Homo sapiens: one gene and its partner. The protein of the gene in region 1 interacts with the protein of each later gene in a pairwise test. Each region holds a gene or a part of one and is shown in the gene's direction. Other genes may lie near its edges. The genes, in order: ZNF596 and PSMA6.

Region 1 (8,667 bases):
AGTGTTGTTTTTAGGATGTGGTAATCTCTGACCCTGCCTAACACATTTCCCAACTCACCCATAGCCTTCCCTTAACGTCCTCCCATCTTCACGCTATCACACTGTGACCCAGTGAATTCGAACTTGTGAAGTTCCATTCGGGGGATCATATGGGAAGGGCTTCACACCCAGACATAGATTATAGATGGGAAGTGGGCCACATGGTGTCAGTGAGGCAAGTATGGGTCGTTTAGGGACAATGCACTGTCAGATCTTTGTTGACCATGATTAGAGAAACTGTGCATATTAGTAGTGAATTAATGTCAGGAATATCTGACAAATCCTGGAAAAGAAGATTGATGAGAGGAAATGTGTTCTGCCCAACTGTATAATGCATTTGAAGCTTAAAACAATGAATCAGTATTGATCTGGCCACAAAATATTAATGATTTGAATTAAAAAGAAAAGTTTAGAAAATGATAGCTTTGACAAATTAAGGTAGCATTTCATCCACACGATGGAGTGTGTTTTATTCAGTAATTGATTTAAAAATGGAATCAACCTAAGTGTCTAACAGGAGGGAGTTTTATAAATTGTTCACAGAACATCTGTTCCAAGGAGACCTTGATGTTCATAGATTTGTAAAGAATGCTGCTTACTAGCACACTGACTGCTCTGCAAATGTCTGAGGGTTCCTCCACTTGGGGCAAGTTGGGGGTTTGATCGCAGAGTAAATAAATGGTGCATTTTATAATGTAATATATTCTAGCAAGATGCAGCCCACAAACTGTATAGATACTCTTATGTACCACATAAAGTTCATCTACTACTTTAACCAGAACTTGATACTGTATGTATGTTTTTTTTTTTTAGATTTGGATAAAATGACAACTCATTGTTATTTCCAGTTCACAAAGTAATTGTGAGGCTGAATAAATTTTATTATTTTATAGACATATGTGTAAAATGAATTTTTCTATGAAACTCATTTTTGATGTATATTAGATGCTATTTTATATTCTGTAGTTTAATTATATGTACGCACACACAAACACACACTTCGGTGTCTTATTATGTTTCTGCAGTGAAACCAAAATCCTTCCTTCACGCCCTTTGATTTTATGTTTTCCTCAGGAAGGCAGGAGCTATTGTATATGATAAAATATTATGTTTTATTCAGTCCACTTATGAAATTGTTTAATATTGTTATAAATATTTATATGACTTATTTTAAATTTCCAAATAACATAGGTTACATGAAATTTGACAACTTTATTTTTTTCTTTTCACAACTATTTTGACTGTATACTCACCAAAAATCAAAATTTAGACAAAATTGACTTTTAGACTAATTCTCATTTTTTACATGTAAAAGACCACATGGGACTTTTAAGTCTAGGTTGCCCTGAGTCTACAGTCACTGAGGTTTTATGTCACTATGTCCTCCATTCTAATAATAGGATTTTCAGGCTTTATTCATGTCATTTTTATATCCTCATTAAGTTTTAAAATTTATTTACATGGGTCTACAAATTTATTTCAAATCGTAGTCATAATATTTGCCTGTTGTAAATAGACACTGATTTTGTGTGTTTGCTTTTTTTAAGGACTAATGTTGCTAAACAGGAAATATTGATTTCAGAATATTCATAATAGTTTTGCCCACTTTTTAAATATTCTTATTAGTATTGATAATTAGAATTGATTCCACTTTTTCAAGTTTACAGTCACGTCATCTGAGAATAACTACAGTTGCAGCTCTTTGACTCCATTTTTGTAGTCCCTCTCCTTTTCCCTCTTGTTTTGGTCCCACCTCAGGCATCATGTGCAGTGGTGAATGGCATCAGCCTCACCCAGCCTCCTTTTTCCAGCCTTACCTTTAGTGGAAATGGTTCTTTTGTTAACTGCTGAATATATTGTTGAGATTTTATTGATTAAGAAGAATTAGTCCCCACAATTTGGTATGATTTTTAAAGATTTTATATTATTTTTAAAGATTTAAATTATATGAAAATGTTTTTTCAAAGGTCTATTAATGTGATTTTTTTAATCTTTAAAATTACTTTGTGAAAATGATAGGTTTTCTAGTATGGAATTATCCTTTTATTATTGCAATAAACTCCACTTTACCATGCTCTGTCATTATTTAACCATACCAGTGATGGCCAGGTGGCCAAAATAAATAGCCAAATGGCTAAAATTGTATTGATGATTTTTGCAAATGTAAGTAAGGAAAATTGTTGGTTAAATTTGTAGTTATTGTTACATTCATGTTCATTTTGATTAGCATAATAAACTAATGAGGACAGGCTTATTTTTCTCCTTCAAAATAACTTAGGTTACAAAGGAACTAGAAGTGATTTCACATGTAAGAACTCTCACAAATCACTTTTACAGTTAAACTCTGATATATAACTTAAACATTAAAATTGGCTAATCAGATTTTTGTGCTGATTAATGAGGGAAAGTTTTTACTCTTTTTGTGGAAAGTAATATACATATTCATGTTGGAATATAATTATTCCCATTTCTTAGATTTTAAATTACTACTTTTAAATAAATACAGTCTCTTTTATTAACCTGTGTTTTTTCTTTCCACCGTGGGTCTTTTCAGTTTCATGATTTTGCTCTCAAAACTTTTTAATTATTGATTTCTGTCAAATCTGTTCATTCATTACATTATTTTATTATTTATTAAATTGTTTTATCTTTTTAAGTCTTATTAATATGTACTGAATTTGTAACAATTTGGAAAGTCAAGTAACTCCTGTTTTATCTTTTTCTTGGTTTATGAGTGTTTTTAAAGTTTTACGTTTCTTGAAGATCACAGCTGTAGCCCCAATTCCATGGTTCTGGCTACTTACATTTATCATACTTATTAATATCATGAATGTAATTGGAATACCCCTTTGATTTTACTGGTGACGTATACCCACTAGTGTACTGAGACGGAAAAAAAAGTCTTTAGAACTCAGATAAATATACAGTTCATATTTACTATTTATGTATGTGTGATCTCATTATTAAATTACTCTATCATGTTTGTGGAATTAGCAGTTTCTCTTTGAATTTGGATGTTTCTAGTTATGTGTATTTCCAACGTATGTTTTTAGCCACATACACTTTATTGAATATCATATTTGGTGTTTAATTTTTGCTAGGATTATAGGCTGGACTCCAGATCCAAACTTGACATGTAGCAGACCCATTAAAAACATACATTAAGCCCCTAGCACTGTTTTAATCTCCATGGCCTGGCTGAGCTTCTGCCATCTGTCTTCCTAGGCACCATGAGGTCTGGACATCTCATTTGGCATAACTCAGCTGTGGCCATTGGTGGATCTCATCCTTAGTACTAGTCCCTGCTGGCAGGGGTGACCCAGGCCCACATAAGCCATTGCTGGCCTCCTTGGAGGACTTAGAGAATCCTGAGATTGCCCATGAGGATGGACATGCCTTTCAGTCTAGCACCCACCTTTAGTGATGCCTGTGGAGATTGAGAAGCTCACAGGGGCCTTGGATGTCTTTCTTATACCTCCATTGTCTGCAGCGTGACTCCCATACTCTTGAGCCAAGGTAGAGAATTTTTAGGAGGCTTGTGTGGAGGTTTATGGTGGCCCCCATGGTTCTGTGAGACTGGTAGAAAGCACAGACCCCTTAGACTTCTCCCCAAGGAGAATACGTGAGACTAGTGGAGGAAAGGAGAGTAATGAAATATGCATTTCGTGTCCCAGGCTATCAGAGCACAGCTCTAAGGAAAAATACAGGGCATCGTATAGCAACTGGCACAGCTCTGTGAGACTGGGAGATATTGCACAACCTTGAAAAATCAAGATGTGACCCTACTGAATGAACAAAATAAATCTCCAATAATTGACCATAAAGAAATACAGGTTTCTGGCTGGGTGCGGTGGCTCACACTTGTAATCACAGCACTTTGAGAGGCCGAGGTAGGCAGATCATTTGAGGCCAGGAGTTCAAAATCAGCTTTGCCAACATGGTGAAATACAAAAAAAAAAAAAAAAAAAAAAAAAAAAATTAGCTGGTCGTGGTGACGGGCACCTATAATCCCAGCTACTCAGGAGGCTGAGGCAGGAGAATCACTTGAATCCAGGAGGTGGAGGTTGCAGTGAGCTGGTATCGTGCCGTTGCACTACAGCCTGGGCAACGCGAGTGAAACTCCGCTTTAAAAAAAAGAAAAAGAAATGGAGGTTTCTGATTTTCCTGATAAGAATTACAGGTAATTGCCTTAAAGGAGGTCAATGAGCTATGAGACAACACTGATAACAAGTAAAATCTGGAAAAGGATACATGAACAACATGAGAATATCAACAAAGAAAAACCATAATAAAAGAATCAAATATAGATTCTGGGGCTGAAGAATACAGTAACTGAACTGGATCAATACAAGGCTTCAAGAGCTGACTTGATCAAGCAGAAGAAAGAACCAGTGAACTCAAAGACAGGTTATTTGAAATTATTCAATCAGAAGAGCAAGTAGAAAAAGAATTTTTTAAAAGTGAAGAAACTGTCTGTCTTTGCTAAAAATTGGAGGGTCCTAAGAACTCCTCCCCGCCCCCACTGCCAATGCAGAGTCTTACTCTGTCACCCAGGCTGGAGTGCAGTGGTTCGATCTCCGCTCACTGCAACCTCCACCTCCCAGGTTCAAGCGATTCTCATACCTCAGCCTCCCGAATAGCTGAGATTACAGGTGCCTGCCACCATGCCCAGCTAATTTTTGTATTTTTAGTAGAAACGGGGTTTTGGGGTTTCACCAAGTTGGCCAGGCTGGTTTTGAACTTCTGACCTCAGGTGATCCTCCTGCCTTGGCCTCCCAAAGTGCTGGGATTACAGGCGTGAGCCACCATGCCCGGCAAGAACTCCTTTTTATGTTAGATTCACTAGGGTTTAGCAGCTCACAGAACCCAGGAAAACAGTTTACTTAGCTGATTTATTACAAAGGACATTTTAAATATTACATATGAACAGCCAGCTAAAGAGTTACATACAGCAAGTTTTGGAAGCATCTTAGGTTTAGGAGGTCTGTCTCCAAGCAGTTGGGGGGTACCATTGTTTCAGCATATGGATGTGTTCTTCACCCACCCAGAAGCTCTAGGAATCCCATCATTCAGGGATTTTTATGTGGTGTTCATCAAGTAGGCATAATTGTTATTAACTCGATCTCCAGCCTCTGTCCCTTTCCCAAAGGATAGGGGGTGGGACTGTACGTTCCAAGCTTCTGATCAAGTCATGGTCTTTCAGGTGATCACCCCCCATCCTAGAGCCTAGTAATAATTGTCTCATTAGAACAGAAGACACTCTTATCACCTATGAAGTTCCAAGGCATTACGAGCTCTGTACTGGGAACCAGGGTCAAAGACCAAAAAGAACAAAAGCTTCTCCTAGCAACTCTGTTGCTTAGGAAATTACAAGGGTTTTGGGTGGCTCTGTGCCAGGAACTGGGGATGAAAACCAAACTATCTATTTCTTACAACTAACAATGTCACATACATGTTCAAGTTTTCATGTTCTTAGTGTCCTTTCATTTCAACTTGAGGAACTCCCTTTAGCATTTCTTGTAAGGTATGTCACTTGTAAAGTGTGTCTTTTAAGGAATCCACCATGATAAAATGAAATTTGAAGCTGCTTGGTAGATAAATTCATGCTACATTTATCTACAGGTCAGACTTGAGGGACTGGTATTTCTAGAAGCCTCACATGGAAGAGACAGAATCATTCAGTACAAGTGTATCCAGAGGACCAGCAGAAGGGAGAAGGAATGGAGGGAGGCTCCTGAGGGCTGAGATGCATGTGGAGAAAGCCTGCAAGCACACAAACCGAGAATAATTAAATCTGAGAAATTCCAGGATTTATCTGTAGGTGGAGCCACATCTCCATGATTCAGGGATTCTTAGGATTTGGAATCATAGAAGGAATTAAACATTTCAGAATTCCATGCGCTAGGTGGCATATGAAACTCCATGATTTTCACATTTCTAGGTCTAAAATAAAAATATTTATATCTTTATTAGCAGCAATAGTCATTTCTTCTGACCCTGGGAGAGGAGAGCCACCAACCCAACCCACCCCCTACCCACTGCATGTCCTTGTTGGTTGGACTGGGGCTAATAGCTTTGGGGCAGATGTTAGAAGCAAAACTGGAGTGTCATGGTTTTTTTGTTTTTGTTTTTGTTTTTGCTCAGATTTGTCTTCTTAGTGCTTGGATGGTGTGAGTGAAAACCCAGAGGAATACATTTGGTGGCTGAGCTAGTACAATGCCATCACCGGTGAGTGGGAAATTCTTCTTTCTACTGAAATTTGTACCCCTGTTACCAGCCTAAGGGCAGATTCATCCTATTAACATGGATGTTCTAAGTGCACTCAAGGATCCAAGCTCCAATTAAGATTCCCCAGGGCTTCGGAATGTTTACATTGGCTCAAAGAGTCATCAAGAAGTAATGTCCTTTCAACAGTACACTAAGGCATTCCAGCCTCTACTAAGGCTGTGTATTAAGATGTGAGAGGTTTTTGTTTCTCTCATCCAGTCTCAGGGAAATCATTCATTACGAGCCTCTCATGGCCTTGTTGGGGAAATAAATTCACTCATTACCTATGTTATTGGCAGGAGTGGGCTTGAGAGTATATGTGGGTAGGTGGTGAAAATAAGTGAGAGCAGGTTATAGCCCATACAAAGGCAAGCTCAGTTAGTCTAGTGTTTCAGGTGTTAGGGGAGGGCTGTTTAACTTGAAGGGAAAGCAGATAGGGTTAGGACAGAGGAGACAATGAGGAATTATTCATTTATTTTTCCTATCTCAAAATCTTAATGTCTTGAGAGAATAAATGTGAACTTTTGAAAAACTTAAAAAGCAAAATTAAAATTCTTATTACCCTTGTCCCCAAATTAACCTCTGATCAAATTTGATAACTGGAAGCAACTGGAGTGTTGTTTCTTTAATTTTGGTTGTGCATTAAGTGATGGAGTATAGGAAACAGAGTAAATTTAAAACTCTGAGGAAATTTTTGAAGTGGAGAGACCAGGACAATCAAAGGATTTTTTTTCCCCTAAATCTAGAGACAACATGAAGAAACAAAATAGAATAGTACCTAGTGCATTAGTCCATTTTCACACCGCTATAAAAAACTACCTGATAGTGGGTAATTTATGAAGAAAAGAAGTTTAACTGACTGACAGTTCTGCAGGCTTAACAGGAAGCATGACTGGGAGGCCTCCAGAAACTTACAATCATGGTGGAAGGGGAAGCAAGCACCTTCTTCATAAGGCAGCAGGAGAGAGACCAAATCAGGAAATGCCACACACTGTTAAATCATCAGATCTTCTGAGATATTACTAGCATGAGAACAGCAAGGGGGAAGTTCACCCCCATGATTCAATCACCTCCCACCGGACCCCTCCCCCAACATGTGGGGATTACAATTCAAGATGAGATTTGGGTGGGGACACAGAGCCAAACTATATCACCTGGTGTTTGAAGATCCCACATAAAATTGAGAAAGGAAATCCTCAGACCATGGAAAGTGGCAGGATGAGACCATCTTTCAGTACTGAAGTCTTAGAGTCCCTGGCTTGTGCTGCTGAGCCATTCATCCTTATCCATTAACAGTGAACACCTGAGTTGTGTAGACATAAGAGGCTGCATCTGCTGATACCAAGTTCTATATGAAAGTTGTTCACACAACTGAGTGTTCTCAGTCATTTCATGAATAATGTATTTGTGGCTTGTATCTAAAAAGTGATAGATAGGAACCACTTTACATACTATCTCATTGGACCTTTTTGAACTCATAACAGGTCTTTATTTTATTCTGAGGACACTGAGGTCCTATAGTGGAATATCTAACTATAGTCTTGATTAAAACGTGACAAATTATGGATGCTGCCTCCCTTGTAGTGAGTCTATAGATTTTCTTGAAGGTGGTGGAGAGGAGAATTTTAGTTCTAAATTTCCAAGTACAGATTTCATAATTAGTATCTGTAAGTTATACTTTAGAAGTCTATTGGGAAATCTTCAGGTTATATTATGCCACACCACATGTGATATTTCTCTATGTGAAGTTTTATGTATGAGTAAATCTGAAAGCCAGATTCCCAGTTCAGATTTAAAGCAATGTGACAGGAACCCCAAACACTGTTTTGAGTTTTCTGTTCATACCACCCACACTTCCTTAGTACAGTCACTTTGATCTTGCTCCACTGAACATTGGCAGAGATAGCCCTGTTTGCAGTAGAATGTCCATAATGTTTTAGGATTCCATGACCTTCGAGGATATCATTGTAGACTTCACTCAAGAAGAGTGGGCCCTGCTGGACACATCCCAGAGAAAGCTGTTTCAAGATGTGATGTTGGAGAACATCAGTCATCTGGTCTCTATTGGTGAGTCTCTTTATATTTATTATGTATGTATATACGGATTCATTCACTCACTCATTTTTCACTGATTCATTCTTTCATTCTACACGTGCTTAGAACAGCTTTCTCATCTATCACTTCAACTTCTGCTTTGATCCTTTCATAACTCTCACAATTACCTGACAGCCATTTCTTTCCTTTTCACTTATATTGATTTGTCCTCTCTCTAGAAAGTCATCTTTCTGACCACAGTTTCACATCCTTCTTGCTCTTTAATCTCCCAAACTCAGAAAAGTTATGGTAATTCACTGCTTTGGT
Region 2 (8,667 bases), on another chromosome or scaffold:
TGAGTGAGAATTATTATGAAAATTATTTTAGGTTGGGCACAGTGGCTCACAGTTGTAATCCCAGCACTTTGGGAGGCCAAGGTGAGAGGATTGTTTAAGACCAAGAGTTCAAAACCAGCCTGGGCAACATGGTGAGACTCCATCTCTATAACAAATTTAGAAATTAGCTAGGGGCTGGTCACGGTGGCTCACACCTGTAATCCCAGCACTTTGGGAGGCCGAGGCAGGCGGATCACTTGAGGTCAGGAATTCGAGATCAGCCTGGCCAGCGTGGTGAAACTCCATCTCTACCAAAAATACAAAAATTAGCTGGGCATGGTGGCGCACGCACACCTGTAATCCCAGCTATTCAGGAGGGTGAGGCAGGAGAATTGCTTGAACTCGGGAGGCAGAGGTTGCAGTGAGCTGAGATTGTACTACTGCACTCCAGCCTCGGCAACAGAGTGAGACTGTCTCAAAAAATAAAAACAAAAATACCAAAAAACTTAACCAGCTATGGTGGCAGGTGCCTGTAATCCCAACTACTCAGGAGGCTGAGGCAGGAGAATCGCTTGAACCCGGGAGGTAGAGGTTGCAGTGAGCCAAGATCATGAGACTGTACTGCAGCCTGGGCAACGGAGCAAGACTCCATTTGAAGAAGAAAAAAAAATTAGCTGGTATGGTGGCACATACCTGTAGTCCTAGCTACTCAGGAGGCTGAGGTAGGAGGATCACTTGAGCCAAGGAATTCAAGGCTGCAGTGAGCTATGATGGCTCACTGGGTGCCAGTCCAAGACCCCATCTCTAAAAAAAAAATGAAAAACTAATTTAAGCCTAAAAACAAAGATTAAGAAAGATTATTCTCTCTCAAGGCCTTTTTTTTTTTTTTTGGAGACAGAGTCTCACTTTGTCGCCCAGGCTGCTCCGCCTCCTGGGTTCAAGCAATTCTCGTGCCTCAACCTCCCAGGTAGCTGGGACTACAGGCATGCACCACCACGTGCAGCTAATTTTATGTTTTTAGTAGAGACAGGATTTAGCCATGTTGGCCAGGCTGGTCTCAAACTCCTGGCCTCAAGTGATCCGCCTCTCTTGGCCTCCCAAAGTGTTGAGCCACCATGCCCTGCCTCCTTAATGCTTTTTCTTTTGGGAGTTACTGGATACTTGCAGAAACTATTTTGACTGCTGATGAAAGGCTCAGTATAAAAGGGGAGTACTGTGTAGAGAGCTTCATGTTTTTAAATTTTTTTCATATACTTGTTGATGAGTTATTTAGTATTCATTGGGGGAGAAAAAGCCGTAGCGGACCCTTTCTCTTTAACTCATGTATGTCTATATGGTGGGAAAATTGCCTGGCTAAATTGCCTGGCTTTCAGGTTTGTTCTTTCCTTCTAACCAGGTAAATCTTTGTTTTTTATGCTATAAGCTGACAGCAGATCCCAGGTACAGAGGGCACGCTATGAGGCAGCTAACTGGAAATACAAGTATGGCTATGAGATTCCTGTGGACATGCTGTGTAAAAGAATTGCCGATATTTCTCAGGTCTACACACAGAATGCTGAAATGAGGCCTCTTGGTTGTTGTAAGTATGCTAAGAGGTCTCCCAAATAATTGATGAATTGAAACTTTTTACAGAACATGTATACAGAATTATTTAAATAACACTTGAGTTCTGAACATGTGGTTTGGAAAATACATAGAGTGGGAAAATCTTTATAATAAATCAGAACTAAAGGATAGGTTTCACAACAGTATGTCGGGCATTATCTTTAAGCTTTAGATGCTGTTAGACTTTTTATCAAAGTATTTCCATTTGGTGTATGTGATTTGAAAGATGCAAGTCCTCATTATTAGGATGTTGTAATGAGGTTCTACTGCAATTCGAGATTACTAATTCCATAGAAATACCTGCATCAGGCATCTTAATAATGTAGCTGTTTGTTTTGACCACCCTAAAGAATTAGGGTCACACACAGGTGTGTAATTCACATTTTTAGAATAAATTTCTATTTTTGAAAACAAGTAAAATTGTATTGGGAGAGGGATGAGATTTACTGATTTTTAGATGTGATGTAATAAATTAGCCTGAAAAATTCAGTGCATGTTTGTTTCTGACATTGTGTCATTCATTTATGAGCATTAAAGCAGTCAGTGTAATGATTTCTGTTTAGCATCTGACCCTCTTGACTTCTCACTTAAAAATTACTTAAATCATATTCATCTTGCAAGACCTTGAAGGAAAGAAGTATTTGTTGTTTCCCCAAGCAGTAAGTGGGTACTTTTTTGTGTTGCCCTTATATTTTGTATATATCAAATATAAGAAAGCAGTCAAACCATTAAGTACTTTGTTACCTGTTCTACTGAGTAGAAAGAAATTTAATGATGGTGTTTATTTTAATTGTATTCCTATAATATGGTAACATTAGAATTGTAGTAACAAAGTTACATGTATAGAATTTAGAGCTTGGTTTGTGTGACTTACTAGAGGAGTATATACCAACAGTAATGAAGATGGGCAGTGTAAAGGTGAGCAGGTAGCCTGTAAGTGTATTTCAGTTTGTGCCAGCATTCCCAAAGTGTGTCCCATACACTGTTCCCTGGAACCTTAATAGGTATTTCTATTTTAAAAAAAAAGTATTTCTTGGTCAAACAAACAGAAGAACTACTGAGTTAAAGTTAAATAGGTCAATCTACAACAGAATATTTCACAGCATTTAATATGCTATTATTTATTATCTGTTTCCAGAAAAGGTATATGAAAGTGTTTTTGGGCCAGGCACAGTGGTGCACACTTATAATCCCAGCACTTTGGGAGGCCGAGGCAGGAGGATCACTTGAACCCAGGAGTTCAAGACCACCCTGGGCAACAGCGAGTCCTCGTCTCCTAAAAAAAAAAAAAAAAAAAAAGGTTGGCCAGATGCAGTGGCTCACGCCTGTAATCCCAGCACTTTGGGAGGACGAGGCAGGTGGATCACAAGGTCAGGAGATCAAGACCAGTCCTGGCTAACACGGCGAAACCCGGTCTCTACTAAAAACACAAAAAATTAGCTGGGCGTGGTGGTGGGCACCTGTAGTCCCAGCTACTCGGGAGGCTGAGGCAGGAGAATGGCGTGAACCCGGGAGGAGGAGCTTGCAGTGAGCCGAGATCGTGCCACTGCACTCCAGCCTGGGAGACAGAGCGAGAGTCTGTCTCAAAAAAAAAAAAAAAAAAAAAAAAAAGTGTTTTTGAAGTTTATTTGACCAGGCAACATCTTGAAGGATTAGGGTTCAAATAAACATGCTTGGATAACAGCAAGGATTGGAAACACTATTTTTAAATTGTATTTGTAATTATTCAAACTATTTTTTTTAATCTGTGATAAATCCTTTTGTGAAATGGGAATTTACCTGTTACCTAATTTACCTGTGGTGATAACCTGTATTTTATCAGTTTTCTTAAAGGAAAATACATATCCTAAAATTGATGGCCAAAGTCATGATTAGCAGCAGCTATGTGACACCACCAAGAAAGAGGAGATGTCATTGTATAAAGCTAAAACATTTAATTAGGGTCTTTTCTCTTTTTAGGTATGATTTTAATTGGTATAGATGAAGAGCAAGGCCCTCAGGTATATAAGTGTGATCCTGCAGGTTACTACTGTGGGTTTAAAGCCACTGCAGCGGGAGTTAAACAAACTGAGTCAACCAGCTTCCTTGAAAAAAAAGTGAAGAAGAAATTTGATTGGACATTTGAACAGACAGTGGAAGTAAGTCAACCAAAAGGAGCTGACTTTTTTTATGCTATATAGAACAGTGAGGATCTTTGTATAATTTCTATACAAAGCTATTCCTGAATTACATCCCAGGATTCAAGTTGTCAACTTAATAATGAAATTGATATCATACAGCTGACATAGGAAAATTTGAGTTGCTTTTATTCACTTAATTCCTTATTTCGTAATGTATTTGAGGTGGCTTTCAACAAAACGCATATAATAGGAAAATATAAATAAAAATAGGAACCAGCTGGGCATGGTGGCACACACCTGTAGTCCCAGCTACTTGAGAGGCTGAAGCTGGAGGACTGCTTGAGTCTAGGTGTTCGAGGCCAGTCCTATTTACTGCCAAGAAATTAAAAACAAAAATTTTAGTAGATTTTGGGTGTAAGTCTGGAATTAAAGCCATTCTGAAGATGCTAACAACATGCTTCTGATAAGTGACCAAAAAAAAATTACCATCTAATGCTTTTACGTTTGGTTTGGAAGTATGCTTAAAGGAGATAAAAAGCTAGTTCATGTTCAGGAAGTACTGGGCCCTGTCTAAATATTTCTTAAAGGTTTCTTTTATTGCAATTCATAATTAATTACATAAATAACCACATCCGGTAAAAAAACACTTAAGGTGGCTCACACCTGTAATCCCAGCACTTTGGGAGGCAGACAGATCACCTGAGGTCAGGAGTTTGAGACCATCCTGGCCAACATGGCGAAACCCTGTCTCTATGAAAAATACAAAAATTAGCCGGGCATGGTGGCAGGCGCCTGTAATTCCAGCTACTCAGGAGACTGAGTCAGGAGACTCGCTTGAATCCACGAGCCTGAGGTTGCAGTGAGCCAGGCTGGCGCCACTGCACTCCAGACTGAGCGACAGAGTGAGACTCTGCCTCAAAAAACAGAAACAAAACAAACAAACAACACTTAAAACATTCTTAAATCGTTTTTACTGTAAATTCCTTGAAGATGCAGAGAGTATCATTCATCTTTATCCTTTTCCCATTTCACCCCAAGTGCTAAGTGAAGTGTAGTGCCTGGGTCATGAAGCCAATAAACCTTTTTGTATAAATCATCCTATTTTAATTAATGGACCCCTTTATTATTTGACTTGGTAGAAAAAAATTTCTCATCATTGGGAGGCAATACATTAGAGTTAAGCAGTCTGTTAGTAACATTGAACTACCTCATTGAAACATGGAGCTCCTGATTGACTCATGATTTGAATAAGCTAGGAATGAGAAAACCTTGGAATCTCTAAAAAATACTATATTTTAACATTAAATACTTTTTTTCAGACTGCAATTACATGCCTGTCTACTGTTCTATCAATTGATTTCAAACCTTCAGAAATAGAAGTTGGAGTAGTGACAGTTGAAAATCCTAAATTCAGGTGAGTGATATTGTGGGCCACATGCAGACTAGAAAGGTGGAGGCGTGTGAGTCCATGTGTCCTATAACTTGTGGGGGAAATCTTTTTTCTTTAACTGTCATTATAGTTTTTGTTTGTGTGTTTGTTTTTTTCCCCAGCACCTGAGATCTGTTTTTAAAACTTTGGACTCTATTTAAGAGTCAGATATGAAAGCTTTTCTCCTTATTTCAGAGTGATTTTATATCTAACACCAGAGATGACATAAAGTTACCTTCCTTATGTAAGGAAAAAAATTAGCATAAGTGTTTTCTTTTTTTTAGTTTAAGGCCAATACAAATTCAATTCCCAAAGTAGTAGTTTGCAAGTTTTTCAGATAGAACTTTGGTTATTTAGTGGTTATTTAAGTAGAACTTTGAGGAGCAATATGAGTTACTGATATATGTCAGACCCTTATCTAGAGATCTTTGGAAAGCCCAAATTTTGAATACAGCTAATTGACTTGCAGTTGCTGGATGTGTGTGTGTGTGTGTGTGTGTGTGTGTGTGTGTGTTCTTACTCACTAAGTGACTAACTCCCACACATCAGCCTTATAGCTTCCATGATTCAAATCCATACTGAGTGCTTCGTATAATCAGCTCATTTAATCCTCCCAGCAGCCCTGTGAGGCAGTTGATATACCATGGACCAGGATGCTCTTATCTTTAATGAAAATACTGCAGTTAAATCGACAGATACAAGGAACTACTGGGAGGCATTTTAACTATTATGTGTATCTATTCTTAGATCACAACCATAAAGACACATGGTCTTGGTTGTGGTGTGGGGTACGGGAGTGGTAAACTAAGCTTAACTAGACCTTGAAGAGGTTTTTCGTTTGTTCTTTTTTTTCCTAATTTGTTCTTTTGGTTGCCCACAGATAAGTCATATAAACATGACAGATTCAGAAAAATTCATAGGACTTTAAAAAAAAAAAAACAGCTGGGTGCTGTGGCATGCATCTGTAGTCTCAGCTCCTCAGGAGGCTGAGGCAAGAGGATGGCTTGAGCCTTGGAGTTGAAAGCTGTAGTGCGCAATGATAGTGCCTGTGAATAGCCACTGCACTCTAGCCTGGGTAACATAGTGAGACCTCATCTGTTAAAAAAACAACCGACAACACCAAAAGCGAATCTATCCTAGCTTTTCTTCCCGTAGGAAGAAGTCTTGTAACTTGGGTTGGGGTAGGGGTGAGGGGTGGGGGCAGGGATCAAGTTGCTTTTGAAAAAGGTGCCTTTTTTTTTTTTAAGTAAAAATTTCAGCAAGAATAATCTTAAAATCTCTCTAAGGAACCTACAATTAGTTCTTGTTTTCTTTTCTGTTTGGAGACCTTCCTGCCACCTTTAAAATTGTATTTGTTATTTTTTAAATTGGTAAGGAATCAAAAATCTTGTCTTCAAAAAACTTTGTATCATTTATAAATTCTGTGATAGTAAATATATGTAAATAATTACAGTACATAGCATAAGCATCAACAACTATTTAAACTGCTTGATATTGCCTTCAGTTGCACTAAAAAATGTCCTTTTGACAAATTTCACTTTTTAGAAGTCTAGTAGTAATAGGTCACATTAACAAGGTTGCCAAACAATTGCTTCCTTTCGAGGCAAACATCATTTAGAAAATACATGTTCAGGGCCACACATGGTGGCTCACACCTGTAATCCCAGCACTTTGGGAGGCCAAAGTGGACAGATCACTTGAGGTCAGGAGTTTGAGACCAGCCTGGCCAACATGGTGAAACCCCATCTCTACTAAAAATACAAAAATTAGCCAGATGTGGTGGTGGACGCCTGTAATCCCAGCTGCTTGGGAGGCTGAGGCAGGAGAATTGCTTGAGCCTGGGAGGCGGAGGTTGCAGTGAGCCAAGATTGTGCCACTGCACTCCAGCCTGGGCGACAGGGTCAGACTCCATCTCAAAAAAAAAAAAAAAAAAGAGAAAGGAAATATATGTTCAACATGGAGCACTCTCTGGCTGGTAGACTATTCATAGAATTATAACTTTATTTTCATGAACTTCTGAATCTGAACACTTTAATATGCTTAAAATTTCTTCATGAATTTTTATCTTTGAGCTGACATAAATTTCAGTTATACTACATATAAATGTATTTTGACGGCTGGGCAAGGTGGCTCACGCCTGTAATCCCAGCACTTTGGGAGGCTGAGGCAGGCGGGTCACGAGGTCAGGAGTTCCAGACCAGCCTGTCCAATATGGTGAAACCCCATCTCTACTAAAAATAGAAAAATTAGCTGGGCATAGTGGCACATGCCTGTAGTCCCAGCTACTCAGGAGGCTGAGGCAGAAGAATCGTTTGAACCTGGGAGGCAGAGCTTGCAGTGAGCCGAGATCACGCCACTGCACTCCAGCCTGGGTGACAGAGCAAGACTCTGTCTCAAAAAAAATAAAAAATAAATGCATTTTGACATAGAAGCTAAATAGAATACTTTATAGTTTAGCTTTATTTATGTTATTCAATTGAAATATTTTCTATCTTAGCTGCAACTAAAGAATTTTATTTTCAAGATACAATTCTAAATCTGATGTCAAAGTAAACATTTTTGTGTATAGGTGAAGGTGGTATAATATCTGGGAATTCCTTCAAAATAATCTGAGGGAAGATAAGTGTGTGTATAGATTTTTTAAAGATTGGTTTATAAATTGATAATTGTTAAAGTAGGTTGATAGGTATATGGGAGTTTATTATACTATCCCACTTTTACGTGTGTTTGAAAAAATTTTTTTTAAATCGTTGTTTTTTTCCCCCTTTTGCCTTCTAGGATTCTTACAGAAGCAGAGATTGATGCTCACCTTGTTGCTCTAGCAGAGAGAGACTAAACATTGTCGTTAGTTTACCAGATCCGTGATGCCACTTACCTGTGTGTTTGGTAACAACAAACCAACATCATGGAGGTCCCTGGATTGAAAAAGGAGCCTCTCCCACTCCTCCTACCACCGAAGTGGTTAGGACTCTATATAAATAAAAACAAGGCTTTTGGAAAATAATTGCATCCTGTTGTTTTCACCTCCTATTTTAAAATTTATTTTTGACACCTAATGTACATATTTATGGGGTGCAATGTGATGTTTCGATACATGTATACATTATAATGATCAAATTAGGGTGATTAGCATATCCATCACCTGAAACACGGTGTTTTTGTGGTGAGAACATTTAAAATCCTCTCCTCTAGCTATTTTGAGGTACACAATACCTTATTAGTTTTTTGTTTTTTAAAACAAGATCTTGCTCTATTGCCCAAGCTAGAGTGCAGTGCCATGATTATGGCTCACTGCAGCCTTGAACTCCCTTGTTAAGTAATCCTCTCACCTCAGCCTCCTTAGTAGCTGGTACTACAGGTGTACACCATTGTACCCAGCTAATTTTATTATTTTTTTGTAGAGTTGGGGTCTTACTATGTTGCGTGGGCTGGTCTCAGACTCCTGGCTAGCATTAAGCGATCCTTCTGCCTCAGTCTCCCAACATGCTGGGGTTACAGGCATGAGCCACAGTGCCTGGGTCCACAGTACCTTAC

The links.
Region 2: the proteins of ZNF596 (region 1) and PSMA6 interact in binary tests that used the Homo sapiens proteins (3 or more experiments, as listed by UniProt).

What each region holds. Positions count from the first base shown.
Region 1 is NC_000008.11:234,641-243,307, forward strand, and holds part of ZNF596 (zinc finger protein 596), read left to right. Parts: exon of another isoform or gene 1-5,856; intron 5,857-6,183; 5' UTR 6,184-6,255; coding exon 6,256-6,267; intron 6,268-8,246; coding exon 8,247-8,373; intron 8,374-8,667. UniProt on the Homo sapiens protein: May be involved in transcriptional regulation.
Region 2 is NC_000014.9:35,309,338-35,318,004, forward strand, and holds the end of PSMA6 (proteasome subunit alpha type-6), read left to right. Parts: intron 1-1,402; coding exon 1,403-1,558; intron 1,559-3,543; coding exon 3,544-3,722; intron 3,723-5,023; coding exon 5,024-5,118; intron 5,119-7,911; coding exon 7,912-7,969; 3' UTR 7,970-8,156; downstream 8,157-8,667. UniProt on the Homo sapiens protein: Component of the 20S core proteasome complex involved in the proteolytic degradation of most intracellular proteins. This complex plays numerous essential roles within the cell by associating with different regulatory particles.